Linked DNA regions of Homo sapiens: region 2 is linked to region 1. The links come from fine-mapping of genetic effects on gene expression. A gene starts in region 1. The other region holds a variant in brackets. All regions are shown on one strand. Distances are from middle to middle.

Region 1 (9,535 bases):
AAAGAACTGAAAAACTTATTATTAAGCTTCAAGCTATGGAACTTAATATCCCACATACATCCAACTTACAAATTCCAAGATGAATTTTGAAAAAATACATCAAAAATAATTTCCAACAGAATTTTATCATTAAAAAAGCTTAACTGGTTGGGCGCGGTGGCTCACGCCTGTAATTCCAGAACTTTGGGAAGCCGAGGCAGCCAGATCACCTGAGGTCAGGAGTTCAAGACCAGCCTGTCCAACATGGTGTAACCCCATCTCTACTAAAAATACAAAAATTAGCCAGGCATGGTGGCGGGCACCTGTAATCCCAGCTACTCAGGAGACTGAGGCAGGAGAATCGCCTGAACCCAGGAGGTGGAGCTTGAAGGGAGCCGAGATTGCGCCACTGCACTCCAGCCTAGGTGACAGAACAAGTCTCTGTCTCAAAAAAGAAAAGAAAGAGAGAGAAAAGGGGTCACAGCAGATGAAATTAAGTTAAAGATTTTGAGATGAGATTACCCTGGATTATCGGCATGAGTCCTAATTGCCATCACAAGTGTCCTTATAATAGAGAGGCAGAGGGAAATAACACAAAGACCCACAAAGGAGGTGCAATGTGAAGACAGAGCTAAGAGATATGCAGCCACAAGCCGAGGAATGCCCTTAGCCACTAGAAGCTAGAAGAAGCAAAGATTCTGTCCCAGAACCTCCAGAGGGAGGGCAGCGCTGCTGACACCTTGATTTTTAACTTCAGGCTTCCAGAACTATGAGAATAAATTTATGTTGCTTTAAGTTACCCAGTTTGTGTTAATTTGTTATAGCAGCCACAGAAAACTAACACATTGGCCTTCTTGTTGCCCTAATACCCCAAGTTTGTTCCCTCCTCCTTCTCAAAGGTTCCTTGAGAACCTTTGCACCTGATGTCCTGCTGGGACTCCTTTAAGTCTCAGGCTCATGAGTCACTGTCTGAGAGAAGCCTTCCCTCTCCAACTAAATCCACCCCACACCAGTCTCACACACACATTTCTCTAATTTTTTATAGTACTTTTCACTATAATTATTTGGTTCTCAAACGCGCTTATTCTGTCTTCTCCAGTAAAATACAATGTAACAGCAAGCACCTTATATTCACCACTCTCTCTCCAGCACCTACTAGAACTCAAAAATATGTTGAATGAATCATAGGTCTTGTCTTTAGCTTACCTCTTAAAATACTTAGCTGTAAACCATTATTATCTCTCAAACCACCCAAATGCACCAATTCAGAAATTTCGAATGTTTAACACATAAGTGTTCTCACATGCAGCTACAAATAATCCTTTTGCATTTTGATGAACACATTTTTTTCACCTGTATTCTTACTTTCAATTTTGTAATATCATATATATGTTTATTTTCTTATCTCAACAATTATTGCTAACATTGCTACTGCTGCTTAATAAAATTATAATTGTGGATGGTCTAATTACTCAATTACTGTTTCCACTTTAACCACAAGAGATTTTGCCTTCTGAAATGTGCCACAAAAATGGCAAATAGATCAGACAGAAGTGATCACTATACAGGCTTACATTCACGGTCAGTTAACAAGAGGCCTCACAGCTAGTAAGTAAGCAACGGAATTATCTAATACACTCACCATACCCATCCATTCTAACACTCACCCCAATAAGCCTGCAGGCAACGTGCAAATGCCTAATGGTTGAGATTTCTGGACTATATAATTGCCACATTATAAAATCTTTCTTAACTTCACATCTTTCGCTGTTCTATTCCCAGGTGGTACACTCACTTTAAAATTTAGAATTGAGAAGTTCTACCCAAAATTCTATCTGTTATACTAGAACAATGACAAATTATTTCAAAATTATATAAGCGTATGTCAACATTAAGTCTCCAAATAAAGCTCCTGAGAAGCACTCAGAAAAGGATGATCACAGATAAAGCCGCTATAAAAGAGAAGGCCAGCTTTTTCTTGAAAACCAAATTCAGTTAGAACAAATCAAAATGGTGTCTTTAAAAGAAACGGAATGAAAGACTTTAGATTTGTTCTACATAAAAATGTAATGTATTCATCTCTAGTTTCTGCACTTTTTTTTTTTTTCAGACAGAGTCTTGCTCCATTGCCCAGGCTGGAGTGCAGCTGCCCGGACTTGGCTCACTGCAGTCTCCACCTCCCAATTTCAAGAGATTCTCCTGCCTCAGCCTCCCAAGTAGCTGAGGCTACTGGCGTGTGCCACCACTCCCAGCTAATTTTTTGTATTTTTAGTAGAGAAGGGGTTTTGCTATGTTGGCCAGGCTGGTCTCGAACTCCTGGCCTCAAGTGATCTGGCTGTCTCAGCCTCCCAAAGTGCTGGGATTACAGGCATGAACCACCGCACCTGGCCATCCTGCACTTTTTATTCAACCTAGGAAGGCAAATAAAGATCCTGATTGCACCATGTTCCTTCGAGTCAACTAAGCATAGAACTAATGGCACAACCAGCACAACACCAGGTGTTAAGTTTGCAGACAAATGCAAAAGATACACTACAAATTCACCCAACACAAATGTATTAAGCATCATAAGGTAGACTGGTCAACATATTCAATTTAGTATTCCCAATGTGAAGAAACTATGTTATTGAATAGCATAAAGATCCCAAAAAGGGAAATTTGAAAGATTTGACAGTCATCCTTAATTTCAGAAACCCAATGCAATAAATATGCACAACACGCTATAGTGCAGTGTGCTGCTTAAACACTTCATGAAGACAAAAATCTCAAACTAAGAAAAAAGAAATTGGACAGATGGCTATTAAGACCAGGGGGAATAAAGTATCTATCTGTGAATTAAACTTTGTGTTATAACAAATCTATTGAGAACAAGGAGGAAAAAGAATGATAAAAAATGTCCTCTGAACAAGTAATTCCATTTTTGAAAAAAATTACCAAATTAAAACAAGTAAGATGTAAACATTAATGACAATACACAGTGAGAAGCTAACACCACTGAAATTCCCACAAAAGTTGTAATATGGAATAGTTAGTGCTGAAGTGTCAAGAAAGATGGATTCAAAAGTTACTGTTATATGGCTGGGTGTGGTGGCCCATGCCTGTAATCCCAGCACTTTGGGAGGCCAAAGTGGGAGGATCACCTGAGGTCAGGAGTTTGAGACCAGCCTGGCCAACATAGTGAAACCCTGTGTCTACTAAAAATACAAAAAAAAAAAAAAAAAAATTAGCGGGGCGTGGTGGCACACACGTGTAGTCCCAGCTACTTGGGAGGCTGAGGCAGGAAAATCGCTTGAACCTAGGAGGCAGAGGTTGCAGTGAGCTGAGACTGCACCACTGCACTCCAGCCTGGGCAATAGAGTGAGACTCCATCTCAAAAAAAAAAAAAAATTACTGTTATATACTATCATCAAAACTATATAAAACATGTTTGGGCTGGGCACGGTGGCTCATGACTGTAATCCAGCATTTTGGAAGGCCCAGGTGAGTGAATCACCTGAGATCAGGAGTTCAAGACCAGCCTGGCCAACATGGGGAAACCCCATCTCTACTAAAAATACAAAAATTAGCTGGGCGTGGTGGCATGCGCCTGTAGTCTCGCTGAGGGAGGTTGAGGCAGGAGAATTGCTTGAACCCAGAAGGCAGAGGCTGCAGTGAGCCCACACTGCATGAGTGCACTCCAGCCTGGGTGACAGAGCAAGACACTGTATCAAAAACAAACAAAAAATGTTTGGAAAAAACAGAAGAAAATTGACTAAAAATTTTAACAGGAGTGCTTGTCTATTGGGCAAGATTTGTAGGTGACTTTCTCCACTTTTCCCAAAAAAGCTATATTTTTATTATGAGAAGAGAACTATAAAAAGATAACACAGTCCAGGTGCAATGGCTTGCGCCTGTAATCCCAACACTTTGAGAATGTCGCCTGAACTCAGGAGTTGGAAACCAGTCTGGGCAATATAGTGAGACTTCATCTCTACAAAAATTTTAAAAAATAAAAAAAAAGGTAACATGTTATTTCTTTTAAAAAGTTCCAAGAAAAGAAACATGATAAATTTATATTAGTATTTTGGGTATTTTAATATAAACTTCACATATAGATCAAATTCAACTAAGACAAAAGATTGCATATTTTATATTTTTGTCTAAAATAAGAACTTCCACTAAGGCAAAACTTGAAATCAGAAAGTGTCAGAACTGACATACACTCAAACTGGAAATTCTGAAGGGGAACAAAAAAATCAACTTGTAGAGACACCATATAGTAAGTAACACATGCAAAAATAATCTATTATCTTTTAAAGTACCTTCTATTCATCTTTTTAAAGCCAATTTCCAAGTCAGAACTGAAGCCCAAAAAACTTACCCCACTGTCCCCTAAATTACAATGTAACTCCCCAAATGCCATTAAGAAAAAAGATCTGAAGATTCATACAAACTGATGTTACCAACTCAATCAGCCTAGTATCATTTATCCTGAGAACCCTCCTTGCACAAAATCAATTTTCAGAATTTAAAATATCTCCCAAAACGTAATTATTGTTTTCAATTTTCCATACAAGCGTCTTTCACTGATATCAACCACATTTGCCCAAGTTTGCTTTCACCTGAGGAAGTCCTAAATCATTGAGATTTAAATTAGGTCATTAATATTTTTACATCTATTTTAGCTTTTAATTATCAAATTGCCTCAAGCTATTGTATCCTATACGAGGCTTAGGTTGTCTCTTATTCCCCATATAATAGTTAATAACAATCACATGGAGATAAACACTGACACAGACTGTATAATTTAGAACTCTCACCACAGTGATTTTCAACTTTGATAAAATCCGTAGCATTTAATAACTAAACTTTAAATGTTATTACCTTCTCAAATATGGGAACATAGGAAGACATATGAGGGTTGATTTCTGCTTCCCAATCTTCATCTCCCATGGTGGCTTCAAGTTCTATTCATAAAAAAAAAAAAATGCACATTTGGACTCAATTAGATCAGAATCATAACTTTAAAAGCATAAACTCATTGTTTCACATACATCTTGAAACTACCCAACTAGGTGCTGATACCCCAAAAGTTTTTTCCAAAGAAGGAATTAGGTCTCTTCTTATCTAAAGGTGGCATTTATCTCCATCCTTTCTTAGCTTTAGAAACTAGTTGAACCTCTTACCTAGTCATTCTAGCAATCGCCATGTCCCCAGCAAGACTTAGGCTTTTCCCAAACATCTGTTCATAGACTTTATCTCCTCCCTCAAAGGGTCCCCAAACGACTTACTGAATATTAAGGGAGAGGCAACTTTTTTCAGAAACTACTTAAGATTTCTCCCTTCGCATGATTAACATCCAAGGTGGATAGGATGTTTGCTTTGGGGTGTTTGTGGCGTGCGTGGGGGCGGGGACAGGGGTACGGGAGTCGACTGGGTAGGGGGGCGGCGACTCGGTGAAGAGGGAGGCCTTGGATTTTAGTGGGGAAGGGAAGAAGGGTATGGTTGCCCAAATCCTGCCGACAAAGGACAACCAGCTTCATCAAGAAGGATTTGTACACAAATGGTACTCGGACCATGTCTGTTCAGAGAAAACGCAGTGAAGAAGCCAGGAATAAGGCCCCTTCGCCTCCTCTGCAGGCCTCAAGCCCAGACTTTGGGCACCCGTGGGACTCTGAGACCCCGAGGCAGAAAGGCTTCGAAGGACGGCTTCAAAACTCCTCCTACTCCATCCACACTTTGGCCAAAGGTCGGTTACTGGGGAGCCCGTACGGCCGAGTTCAGGCCAGTTCCCGTAGAAAAGCGGCCCACTCACCTCTCCGCGGCTTGCTCTCCCAAGCCCTCGCAGGCGCCCACGCGACTTAAACGGCTGCACGTGCAAGACGCCCACTGCGTCAGGTGCGTGGCTCCAACAACAAATGGCGTCTGTTGACGATTGGCTGGTGACTAGCGCCACCAGCCAATCAGCGCTCAGACGACCAGTGGCGTCCCGCCTCCACTTCTAGCCTGCGGATTCCCTAAACGCTAGCGTTCGGGCCCCTATGGCGACGCTCTGGCCTCATAGCCAAGTGGCCTGTTGGGCCTGTGGGTACAAGGCTGGCTGAGGGCCTACTTGTGTCCACGTTCTCTCGTGGGATCCTTATTCTGGAGACGCTCTGGATTTTCCTTGTGCAAGCTTCGCAAGCTAAATATGTCCACCTGCCTTTTTCTAACAAAAAATAATAATAAAAGGGGAAAGGGATAATGTCCTCCCTACTTGGCCTCTTTAGTGCTCTCTCCCCTTTTACCCATCACAGTCCATGGGTTGGCCCCTCGGGTTCTGCATTTCAGAGACTCGCTCCACATCCGGGGATTCCAGGTGCCTCAAAGTGCAGCTGAGGCTCATGGAGGAGGTGCATTCCCTTTTCCTCCCAGTAAGGGGGGCAGGGATGAGACTCCGTCCAGCTGGGACCCCAGGAAATCGTAAAGAAAGTTAGACTCGGCTGGGCATGGTGACTCACGCCTGTAATCCCAGCACTTTGGGAGGCCGAGGCGGGCGGATCACATGAGGCTAGGAGTTCGAGACCAGCCTAGCCAACATGGTGAAACCCCGTCTCTACTAAAATTAAAAAAATTAGCCGGGTATGGTGGCGGCTGCCTGTAGTCCCAGCTACTCAGGAGGCTGAGGCAAGAGAACCGCTTGAACCCGGGAGGCAGAGGTTGCAATGAACCGAGATCATGCCATTGATCTCTACCTGGGCGACAGAGTGAGACAGAGGAAAAAAAAAAAAAAAAAAAAGCCTGTAAGATTTCGGGGGTCCACCACTTTGGAAGGAAACAGGCTCTGATCCAGAAGGAGGGAGGAAATTGGTGCTGGCATAGGTCATTCATCAAGGCTTGGATTTGTGGCCCACCTGTTTATATTCCTACGGGCACTAGCCAAAGTGGCCAAGGGTTATTTTGATACTTCATGCTGTCTTCAATCAGATTTTCTTGTTCTGCCCCCACCCCCCACCCCAAAAGCAGGTAAAATCCCTCAGTATTTCCCCAGCCCTTCAAAACGCGTGACCATGGGCTGTTTTAAAAGTGTAGTTCTCAGAGGCCGGGCGCGGTGGCTTACGTCTGTCTGTAATCCCAGCACTTGGGGAGGCCGAAGCGGGCGGATCACGAGGTCAGGAGATGCAACCATCCTGGCTAACACGGCGAAACCCCGTCTCTACTAAAAATACAAAAAATTAGCCGGGCGTGGTGGCGGGCGCCTGTAGTCCCAGCTACTCCAGAGGTTGAGGCAGGAGAATGGCGTGAACCCGGGAGACGGAGCTTGCAGTGAGCCGAGATCGCGCGACTGCACTCCAGCCTGGGCCTCAGACCGAGACTCCGCCTCAAAAAAAAAAAAAAAAAAAAAAAGTGTAGTTCTCATTTTTGTTGTCGTTTCTGTCATTTTCCCTTCTCTGAATCTGAAGAAATTCCTATCTCATTCAGGAACATAAATAGCAACACAGTTTGATACTGGTACATAAAGGATAAAGCACTTAATAGGCTCAGGCTTGCTTCATACTTTTTATCTCTAGAACCATCACCACCAAGAATTTCAGGATTCATCTAGTTAGCAATAAACTTTGTCAGACTATTCTCAAGATGATCAAAATGAATATATTTTTTATTTATTTATTTATTTATTTTTGAGACAAGGTCTCACTCTGTCACCCAGAGGGGAGTGCACTAATGATCATAGCTTACTGCAGCCTCAACCTCCTGTGCTCAAGTGATCCTGCCACCTCAGCCTCCCGAATAGCTGGGACTACAGGCACAAGCCACCATGCCCAGCTAATTTTTAAAAAAAATTTTGTAGAGAAAGAGTCTCCCTGTGTTGCCCAGGCTGGTCTCCAATTCCGGGCCTCAAGTGAGCCTCCTGCCTCAGCCTCCCAAGAGTCTCCCTGTGTTGCCCAGGCTGGTCTCCAATTTCTGGCCTCAAGTGAGCCTCCTGCCTCAGCCTCCCAAAGTGCTGGGATTACAGCCATAAGCTGCCACACCCAACCTTAAAAGATTATATTTAGGCTGGGCACAGAGGCTCACGCCTGTAATCCCAGCACTTTGGGAGGCTGAGGCAGGTGGATCACGAGGTCAAGAGATCAAGACCATTCTGGCTAACACGGTGAAACCCCGTCTCTACTGAAAATACAAAAAATTAGCCGGGTGTGGTGGCACGCACCCATAGTCCCAACTACTTCGGAGGCTGAGGCAGGAGAATAGCTTGTTCAAACCCAGGAGGCAGAGATTGCAGTGAGCTGAGATCGCGAGACTCGGCTCAAAAAAAAAAAAAAAAAGATTATATTTAACAAAGGCCAAACCAAAATACAGTTTGATATAATTCATTTTAAATAATTTCCATTTTTAAACCAAATTTTCACATCACATACCCTCAAGGCATGGTGGAGGACAGCAACCAATCTTCAAGGTTCTGAATTTGTATTCCTCTGAGGTATTTTAATTCAATTCAATTGAATTAAATTAATTCAATTCAAATTAGAGATTGTTCCTGCAAAATTTTTAATTCTATGGGAAAATATTTACTAAGCAGAAAAAGCAAGATATAAAATCATGTAGAGAGAATGACAACTAGGTTTTTTTTCAAGTATGGAAAACTTGGGCAAATTTTCTAAAATGAAGACATTTTTTAAAATCACTTAGCAAACATTCTCTGCTATTCACTCACTTGGAGAGTACAGATTCTTGTTGCTTTCAGGTATTGCAATAAAATGACTTAATGAAAAAGTCTGCATGTATAGTGTGTGAGAGGAATCCTTGGTTAAGAAAAAGCGAATTCTGATGAGAACTGAAGTTCAATATTGAGGAAAGGATAAATAAGCAGTGCATAAAAATAATATAATTCAAATATTGACCATGAATAGTGAAAAAAGACAGTTTTGTAAAGATTTGCTCCTTCATGTGTGTTCCAAGAAAGTGAAACTAATATTCTATTTTCTGATTCCCTCTTATAGATCTTAACTTGGTGTTAGTGATATTCTGTAACATAGAGAAAAGGTAGGAATTCGCTTAGTTGTAAAATAAGCCTTAAATGAGCACCTACTATACACCAGGTACCAGGCTAGGTGCTAAGTAAAATTGGCCCATATCTCAAGCAACATTCTAGTGGAAAGAATGGCAGTGGCAACTGGAATTTAAAATCTTCAGACTGCTGTGTCAAATGATTAACTAGAAAGCTTAGGTGAAAAAAAAAACTTTATTGTATACAGTTTCCTCCAAATTCTCTAAATCCCATTTTTAGAAGGACGGATTAAAGCAAAACAATTTCCTCAAAGAAGTCTCAGTTTTAAATCAAAGTTTGTAGTTAAGACCCTTCACACTTTTGAAACACTGAATTCTCAAAGTTAATACAAATAGAGAGAACTGATATTTTAGTCTTTTTATATTTTCAGCATTATCTTCGTCTTATTCAAATAATGATTTTTTATTGATGTGGATTGTGTCTAGCGTCATGTCGACACTGTTAAAAATTCTTTTAATCCACCAGTAGGCCAAAATTAATCACCTCAAATGGTAGAGTATATGTTCATTCTTAGGTACTATAAATATT
Region 2 (9,535 bases), 120 kb after region 1:
GAATATGACAATGAATGAGGTATTTACTAAACTAAAAGACAATGTGAATCTTTGCTATTGTTTCTTTAAAAGACTTGATGTGAGGCCGGGCATGGTGGCTCATGCCTGTAATCCCAGCACTTTAGGAGGCCAAGGTGGGCGGATCACATGAGGCCAGGAGTTCAAGACTCAGCCTCGCCAACACAGTGAAACCCCGTCTTTACTAAAAATACAAGAATTAGTTGGGCGTGGTGGCGTGCACCTGTAATCCCAGCTACTCAGGAGGCTGAGGCAGGAGAATTGCTTGAACCCAGGAGGCGGAGGTTGCAGTGAGCCAAGATCACGCCACTGCACTCCAGCCTGGGTGACAAAAGCGAAATTCCATCTCAAAAAACAAAACAAAACGAAAAGACTTGATGTGGGCACAGCTGTGATCCCAGCTCTTGGAAGACTGAGGTGGGAGGATCACTTGAGCCCAGGAGTTCAAGACCAGCCAGGACAACATAGTGAGACCCTGTCTCTACAAAAAAATAAATTTAAAAAAAATTAGCTGGGCACAGTGTCATGCAGCTGTAGTCCCAGGTACCCAGGAAGCTGAGGTGAGAGGATTGCTTGAGCCCAGGACATCAATGAGCCCTGATTGTGCCACTGTACTCCGGCCTGAGCAACAGAGTAAGACCCTGTCTCAAAAAAACAATTTTTTTAATTAAAGAAAAAAATAATTGGCTGGGTGTGGTGGCTCACACCTGTAATCCCAGCACTTTGGGAGGCCGAGGCAGGCAGATCACCTGAGGTCGGGAGTTTGAGACTAGCCTGACCAACATGGAGAAACCCCCATCTCCACTAAAAATACAAAATTAGCCGGGCGTGGTGGCGTGTGCCTATAATCCCAGGTACTCAGTAGGCTGAGGCAGGAGAATCGCTTGAACCCGGGAGGCAGAGGTTGCAGTGAGCTGAGATCGTGCCATTGCACTCCAGCCTGGGCAACAAGAGTGAAACTCCATCTCAAAAAAAAGAAAAAAAGACTCGATAATTTAGAACTTCTAAAATCTTGTATTAGACTTACGCTGTATGACTTTGCCTTCTTAAGTTTTTTTTTCATGAGATCAACTCTTTGGCCTATTATTTGGCTTGGTCAGAGAACTCTTTGTAAGTGTGTATATCCTGGCCCACACATTAGAATGATGAGATATGAAGTCATTCATATCTCAACTAATTTTAGACCTTCTTTGTCTGCTGTCATCTCTTTGAATTTTCTAATTGAATTTCTTTCACTTTTTGCTCTCATGCTTAACTCTTGAATTTAGCTTAACATACAACTGAGGATATTATTAAGTAAAATATGGATTATTTAGAGGGGTCTTCCTTAGAAAGTCTATATATGAATATGTGGTATGCTAATAGCCAGAAAGGACAAAGAAAATTAAGTTTGACACCTGTGGGTGATCATCCAAAATCAATTTTATTATCACACCCAAAAAATGCTTTGATGTAAGGAATAAATTTATTCATAAAAGGGGACTATATTAAAGGGAAATACTTTATTTATATTAAGTATATTTTGCAAATGCAATGCAGCTACTAACTATAGAAGTAAAAGACTTTTCTGTCCAGTGCTTTGGAGGAGATAAAGATGTATAAGACATCATTCATATCTGAAATGAACTTTTAATCTAGTAAAGGAACTGTGTATATAATTAACTATGATGCAAAGCAATTTATACTGAGGACTATTAGAGAAACAGATCCCTTTCAGTTGGGAGCCTTGAGGAGGGTTGATAAAAGAAGCCGAGAGGTCAAGCAGCAACGACCCATTTTCAGGTTCCTCCTCATAACTGTCCAAAATTTAATATTTGGTACCTTCACCAGCAAATGCAATCATATAGGTTAAATGTATTCGCTTTTAGTTTGGTAAATTTCCTCTAAGATAAGTTTTCTGCGACTTGTTTAATGCTTCTGTATGCTATTTATTCTCTTTGCATTTTGAACACATTGCATTATTCTGTTAATCTTGGACAGCAAAGCACAATGGATTAATAGGGCAAATAATTAGTAACACATTGGGTGGTACAAACAGAAAAATGCATAAGTTTTTCTCACCAAAGATTTGACTTATTTAAATATCAGTATTCAAAGTGTCAAATGTTTGAACTCATTGATAAGAGCAGAAAATATTGATGTTGTATGTTTTCTTTACAAAGCACTGACCTAATTGCTTTTTAGAATCTGGTGGTGGTGGTTTTTGTTTTTTCTAAACTCAATTTCATCCCCATTAGAATATCCAAAACCAAATCCAAATCTAGTTGACACCTAAACAGTAGAATGTTACATTAGTTTGTGACCCAAAGTGAAATTAATCCCCTAGATGCACACAAACTGGCCTGGCTGGCCGGTTTTACAGTCCACTGCTGCCTTCACTTCAGATTATGTAAACACGTGTTGTGAAACAGCTCTGACGGGAACCTTATAACCTAAACATTGTTCTCTGAAATGTAATTTGTTGTCTTTTATATAAAAGAAGAAATTAAATCAAAGATAATTTGAAGGAAAACAACTCTGGGATTTTGTTTAATTGAATTTTGCTGGGAAATATTATTGCTTGGTAGCACTGGCCCCAAGGTCAGGAAGAAGCTGGGTTCCATCTTTCGCCGGGTCAAACTTCTCAAGTGACTTTGCCCCTGTGCCTCACATCAGGCCCCAAGGAGCCCCGCAAAGTGTTCTGATCCTAAAGAAAGGCATTACATTATGTTAACTGAAACCTAAAATGACTATATCTTTAGGACAATATACTGTTGTGACCTCTCCCTCTAAGAATATTTCCGATGAATGTTAAGTAGAGCCTAGTTCCTGGAAGAGCTTGATGTCCTAATCCTCCAGAGCCACTTAAGCCAATAGAGGGCTCTAATTTTCCCCCTTCTCTAAGTACTATTACTTCTTCCCCAGTATTATTTTTATGTTCCATCTCTTCGGCAAAAATAAAATAAGGCTATGTCTTTTTCAACTTCTCTATTCTCTTTTGAGATGGAGTCTCGCTCTGTTACCCAGGCTGGAGTACAGTGGTGCAATCTTGGCTCACTGCAACTTCCACCTCCCGAGTTTAAGCAATTCTCCTGCTTCAGCCTCCCAAGTAGATGGAATAACAGGAGCCAGCCACCACAACCAGCTAATTTTTGTGTTTTCAGTAGAGACGGGGTTTTGCCATGTTGGCCAGGCTGGTCTCTCTCAAACTCCTGACCTCAAGTGACCCACCCCAGCTCAGCTTTGCGGAGTGCTGGGATTACAGGCCTGAGCCACTGCGCCTGGCCATTCTTACTTATCTCAGGCCATAAAGTACAGGCCTGCGATGGGGATGGGAAATTGCTCACACTCCAGATTTTTCCTCCTTTGGCTCTCTCTCAATCCCAAGTGATCCTATTGTTTGGTCATAGTAGGCACTCAATATACACTTGTTTAATCAATTAATTAACTAGTCAGGATTCTTTATGGAAAATAATAAGGTAATTGCTATTATCTAGGATGTTGTTCCATAGCCCCAAAACCATTACAAAATAAAATTGGGGTCAGCAGGTTCAATATTAGTCATTCAGTCAATAACTAAGTACTGACTGGTTGCCAGACCTTATGCTAAGCACTGAGCATACAGTGGTGAACAAGCCAGATGTGGCTCTGACACTTTAATATCCCTCACCAACCTCTAGGCATCAACAACCAGGTCATCCTTCCAGGTGTCACCGAAATGCCAGGCTATTGCCCCTTCCTGCTGCCTGTCTCAACTGAATGCTGTGCTGTGGCCACATCATACACATGTTTTGAAGAGAAGAATATAGGACAATGTTGCAGTAAGTAGGTCTCTGTAAAGTGAATCATTTTTATCAAAATAAAACTGCTTTTAAAAAGTTAGAGCTGGGTGCCGTAGCTTGCACTTGTAATCCCAGGTACTCAGGAGGCTGAGGTGGGAGGATCACTTGAGGCCAGGAGTTTGAGACCAGCTTGTGCAACATAATGAGACGCTGTCTCTGAAAATAATAACAGAAAGTTAACCAGGCATGGTGACACACTTGCCTGTAGTCCTAGCTACTTAGGAGGCCAAAGCGAGAGGATCGCTTGAGGCCAGGAGTTCAAGGCTGCAATGAGCTGTGATTGTACTACTGCACTCCAGCTTGGGTGACAGAGCAAAAAAAAAAAACGACAACAAAAAACCTAGGTTAATGATAATCACATAAGGTTATGTGGTCACAGAATGAACATGAATGACGTTTTATGGGGGATTCTAAGTGACTCATTTATGTTATTACTTTATTATTTAACAGATTTTTCTAAAAAGATGTCTGTCTAAGATAAATCATGGAAAAGAAGACTTGTAGAAATATAGCTACAGTCAACCCATTAAATCAAGAACCTACCGACGGAGAACCTTTAGGATAGGTGAGAAAGATCCTTGGTGAAAGGGGTAGATTCAGGTTTTGTGGGGCCTGAGGCTTATACAGTTTGGAGTTATCTCTTTAAGGAGATACACAACATTAGGAGTCCCAAATTAGAAAGGAGGCCGACCGGGTGCAGTGGCTCACACCTGTAATCCCAGCACTTTGGGAGGCCAAGGCGGGCGGATCAGCTGAGGTCAGGAGTTCAAGACCAGCCTGGCCAACATGGCAAAACCCAGACTCTATTAAAAATACAAAAATTAGCCAGGCATGGATGATGGCGGGTGCCTGTAATCCCTGCTATTCAGGAAGTTGAGGCAGGAGAATCGCTTGAACCCAGGAGGCAGACGTTGCAGTGAGCTGAGATCGCACCACTACACTCCAGCCTGGGCAACAAGAGTGAGACTCCGTTTAAAAAAAAAAAAAAAAAA[AG/G]GAGCCCATGCAAGTGAGGAGCCTTGACAGCAGCTTTAAGGCAAACCATCCACAAACCACTCTGCGCAGGGGCAACTGGAAGGAATGTTAGAAGGAGGAATAAGAAGAAATGTTTCAGTCACCTTGTTTGATTATGTCAAGCTCTGAGTTTCTCCACTACCTTTAAGAACTGCAACTTTTACCAAACCTAAGCATTATTTCTGGAACAGTTAAATTGGATTTAGCAAAATAGCATGGGATACAAATTCAGTAATGGTTGAGATCAAAGTAGGACATTTTTCTTTTTTAGATTGGAAAGTTTTTACCTGGGTATGGGTCTTTTAAGAGATACTTTCAGCAATATTGAAGAATTCAAAGAACGGTTTAATTTTCAAAGAGTTTCTAGTATTAGTCTATCTTAGCGATGAGGAACCTTTTAAGGGCTCTTGACGCATAAAACAAACAACCAAGAGCAACATTAGAGTAAGGCAACATTTCTTTATACTCCACCTTGTTCCAGAAAGGATCTAATTCTACTGCACGAAAGTGCCCAGCTTTAAAGGATTAATGTTAAGTTTTTTTTAGAAACTAAATTAGAAATTTATGACACTCCTTGAGGAGAGGAAACTAAGACTTAATTCACATAAATAATTTTATCACTCCTCGGTGCTGTATTATATATAAAACCTTTATTGCAGATAGATTAAAGCCCAATCCAATGCAGTAAACTTTTACTCATTGTCCTAGAGTTGGAAATGCAAAGATAGAGCCATCATTTCTAGTGCTGCCAGAGTTATCTTTAATTAATATGAAACTGACTATGCCTTTCTCTGTAAAATCCTTCAGTGCCCCAGTAGAAAAATAGGCACAGGGCTGAACATGGTGGCTCACATCTGTAATCCTAACACTTTGAGAGGCCAAGGCAGGAGGATCACTTGAGCCCAGGAGTTCAAGACCAGCTTGGGCAACATATCAAGACCTCATCTCTCCTAAAAATTAAAAAATTTGCCAGGCATGGTGGCATGTGTCTGCAGTCCTGCATCCAGAGTTGGTTCCTTCCAGTGGGTTCTTGGTCTCGCTGACTTCAAGAATGAAGGTGCGGACCTTTGCGGTGAGCATTACAGCTCTTAAAGGTTGCACAGATCCAGAGTGAGCAGATTTATTGTGAAGAGCCAAAGAACAAAGCTTCCACAGCGTGAAAGGGGACCCAAGCAGGTTGCCGCTGCTGACTGGGGCGGCCAGCTTTTATTCCCTTATTTGTCCCCATCCATGTCCTGCTGATTGGTCCATTTTACAGAGCACTGATTGGTCCATTTTACAGGGTGCTGATTGGTCCATTTTACAAACCTCTAGCTAGCTACAGAAAAGTTCTTCAAGTCCCCCTCCTGACCCAGAAGTCCAGCTGGCTTCACCTCTCAATCCCCCCTCTAAACATGACACCCCAACTACTGTTGGGAATTGGGCAATGACCACTCTAGCTACTTCTGCTGGATAGGGGCGAAGAAGGGGCCCTGCAGTGGTAGTGTCCTCCAGAGGGGAACTCTCTAGGCCAGTCAAAGATCCAGGGGTCCTCAGTAGAAGTTTTGAGTTGAGCTCATTTGGGGTTCCATTTGTAAGACCATCTGTAGCTTGATGGCCTCCATCCTGGAGGAAACAAATTTGACAAGCAGGTTAAAAATACAGGGCCCGAAGGTGAGTAATAGCAAGATGGCTGTCACGGGACCTAGAAAGGGGAGAAGCCATGTTGCCCAACTCCAGAGGTTGGTATAAGAGTTTGAAAGGTGTTGTCTGATTCAGAAGCCTTTTCCTGTAAATGCCAGGCAGTGTCTCATACTATCCCTGACTGGTTAGTGTAAAAGCAACACTCTTCCCCTAAGAAGGTGCACAGTCCTCCTTTCTCAGCAGTGAGGAGGTCTAGGCCTTGGCGGTTTTGGAGAGTTACTGCTGCCAAAGAGTCTATTTGGGATTGTAGAGTAAGGATAGATTTTGTTATTTCTTGTAAACTGTCAGAAATCTTTTGAGAGTGTGTGGTAGTAGGATAGTGAAGTAGATAAACTGGCTATTCTGGTTCCTGTAGCAGTGGCCATTCCTAACCCTTTAAGTAGGGGTATTAGTTGTATGGCTCTGTGCTAACTGACTTGAGCTTTGAGGGGTACTGATAGGGTCTGATTTCCACAAGCTTTGAAGTTAGGATAACACATTTTATACTGTTAACTTTTAGCAAACTTTACTTCTGTTGAAAACCTTGTAAGTTTGGGATATCAATTATTCTTTGCTATTAATAAGACCTCATTCAGTCCATATTAACTTAAAATTGGTATAGATGGCTCCTTCCTGATTCTGTAAGTACTTTAAGGTTTAGCTGAGGGCAAACAGCTTGCGTGTTTGAGCAGATCAATTATTAGGCAATTTTCCTAACTCTGCTTTTACAAGAGTTTCCTTATCACTTACTGAATACCCATTGTGTCTTTTTCCCTTAATTGCCTGAGAGGAACCATCTATCTTCCTGTCCTGAAGGGAGTTCTTCCTAAGTCTGGTCGGACCTTTGTATAGTAATTAACTAAGATTTAGATCCCCTGTTAGGAAACCTGCTGGGTTAAGGATTTTTGATAGGAAGGCTATGGGCTGTCAGTGCCTCAGTGTTTTTGGGCTACGCCCTTGTTTACACTGACAACAAGGTGGTAATGGAGTGTTATGGAGTGTCATGGAGAAGACATTCAATTATCAATTATAGGTTTTAAATTTACCCTGGCTTTTAAAGGAATAGGGTACACTGTTTTTTCTTTACTACTTCTATCTCTCTTTCTCTCTCTCTGACTCCTTGTCTGTCTCTCTCTTTCTCTCTGACTTCCTCTTTGTCTCTGTCTCTTCCTCTCTTTCCTTCTCTCTTTGACTTTCTGTCCTCCCCCCCATTCTCTTTGACTTTCTGTTTTTGCCCTCTCTCTCTCTCTCTCTCTCTGACTCCCTCTTTGTCTCTCTGTCGTTAAGCACCCCGAGGGGAGACAACTATGCCCCCGTGAAAGTCCCCATTCTGTTTCAGTCGGGAATACTGGGGCTTAATCTGTTGGAGAGGGTTGTTCTATACCAAGGGTCCTTCCGTAGGTATTTCCGATGGGAGGTTCTGCCTGGCAGCAATTTTGGCCTCAGCATCTGCCCGATGGTTTCCTTCTGCCTTTTCTTCTTCACCTTTTTGATGGCTTTGGCAGTGTAAGACTGCCAGCTCCTTGGGTTTTTGCACTGCATGCAACAGCTTCATGATTTCCTTGTGGTATTTAACGGAGGTTCCCCCAGATGTTAGGAATTCCTTTTCCATATTGCAGCATGGGCACGTAGGATTAGATAAGCATACTTGCTATCTGTATACACATTTATCCTTTTTCCCTTTCCCAGTTCTAAGGCTCAGGTAAGTGCCACTAGTTCTGCTAACTAGGCACTGGTTCCTCGGGGAAGAGGCTTACTTTTGAGTACTGTTACATTACTAACTATGGCATAACATCACTAACTATGGCATAACCTGCCTTCCGTATCCGATTATCCACAAATCAACTTCCATCGGTATATAAGATTAGGATTAGCTAAGGGGACTTCTAAGAGATCCTCTCCGGTGGCATAAGTCTGGACTATAATTTGTTGGCAGTCATGCTTGATTGGTTCTCCATCCTCTCGGAGAAAAGTGGCAGGGTTGAGGGCCGCACACATGTGTATTTGAAGCACCGGTCCCTCAAGGAATAGCGCCTGGTATCTAAGCAGGCGGTTGCCTGATAGCCATAAACTTCCTTTGGCACCTATGCCATTTACATCATTAGTAGTCCAGACGGTGAGATCCTTTCCTTGCATTAGTTTGATAGCCTTTGATACTAAGATGGCCACCGCTGCAACTACCTGTAAACGGTGAGGCCAGCCTTTTGCTACTGTATCAATTTCCTTACTTAGGTATGCCACTGGTTGCGGGGTTGTCCCACAAGTCTGAGTAAGGACTCAGAGCCCTTTCCCAGAAAGCCTGACACCTGTGTCTTTAGTCTGGTGGCCGCGCTAGTTGCTTTTAACTGGCCGACAGGTGCCCGGTGTTTAGCCCCCAGATTCTAAGGAAAAATAGGACAGAATAGCAAGCGAAAGGGGTCCAGTTGTGTCCAGAATTGGTGGGTTCTTGGTCTCACTGACTTCAAGAATGAAGCCACGGACCCTCACGGTGAGTGTTACAGTTCTTAAAGGTGGTGTTTCCGGAGTTTGTTCCTTCTGATGTTCGGACATGTTCAGAGTTTCTTCCTTCTGGTGGGCTGGTGGTCTCGCTGGCTTCAGGAGTGAAGCTGCAGACCTTCGCAGTGAGTGTTACAGCTTTTAAGGCAGCGCATCTGGAGTTGTTCATTCATCCCAGTAGGTTCATGGTCTCGCTGGCCTCAGGAGTGAAGCTGCAGACCTTCGCGGTGAGTATTACAGCTCATAAAGGCAGTGCGGACCCAAAGAGTGAGCAGCAGCAAGATTTATTGCAAATAGTGAAAGAACAAAGCTTCCGCAGTGTGGAAGGGGACCCGAGTGGGTTGTCAATGCTGGCTCCGGCAGCCTGCTTTTATTCCCTTATCTGACCCCACCAACATCCTGCTGATTGGCCCATTTTACAGAGAGCTGATTGGTCCGTTTTACAGAGAGCTCATTGGTCCATTTTGACAGGGTGTTGATTGGTGCATTTACAATCCCTGAGTTAGACAAAAAAGTTCTCCAAGTCC

Which allele goes with the higher level. Positions count from the first base shown, and alleles are read on the strand shown. Sizes are in standard deviations (SD) of each study's normalised expression.
With allele G in place of AG in region 2, the expression in prefrontal cortex of the gene that starts at base 5,814 in region 1 is higher (moderate effect, 0.47 SD a copy in CommonMind).

What was found. PIP is the estimated chance that this variant, and not a neighbour inherited with it, causes the effect.
Region 2: its variant is fine-mapped to the expression of DDX4 in prefrontal cortex (CommonMind, PIP 0.92).

The regions. Positions count from the first base shown.
Region 1 is chr5:55,734,340-55,743,874 of GRCh38, reverse strand. It overlaps DDX4 (DEAD-box helicase 4), which reads right to left and starts at 5,814. Exons shown (of 22, transcript NM_024415.3): 1 at 5,774-5,814; 2 at 4,843-4,925. The coding sequence starts at 4,911.
Region 2 is chr5:55,614,269-55,623,803 of GRCh38, reverse strand. No RefSeq gene overlaps it. Among named protein-coding and RNA genes, the nearest start is that of PLPP1, 84 kb to the right of the region's middle. The variant AG/G (reference allele first, on the strand shown) is at 4,832.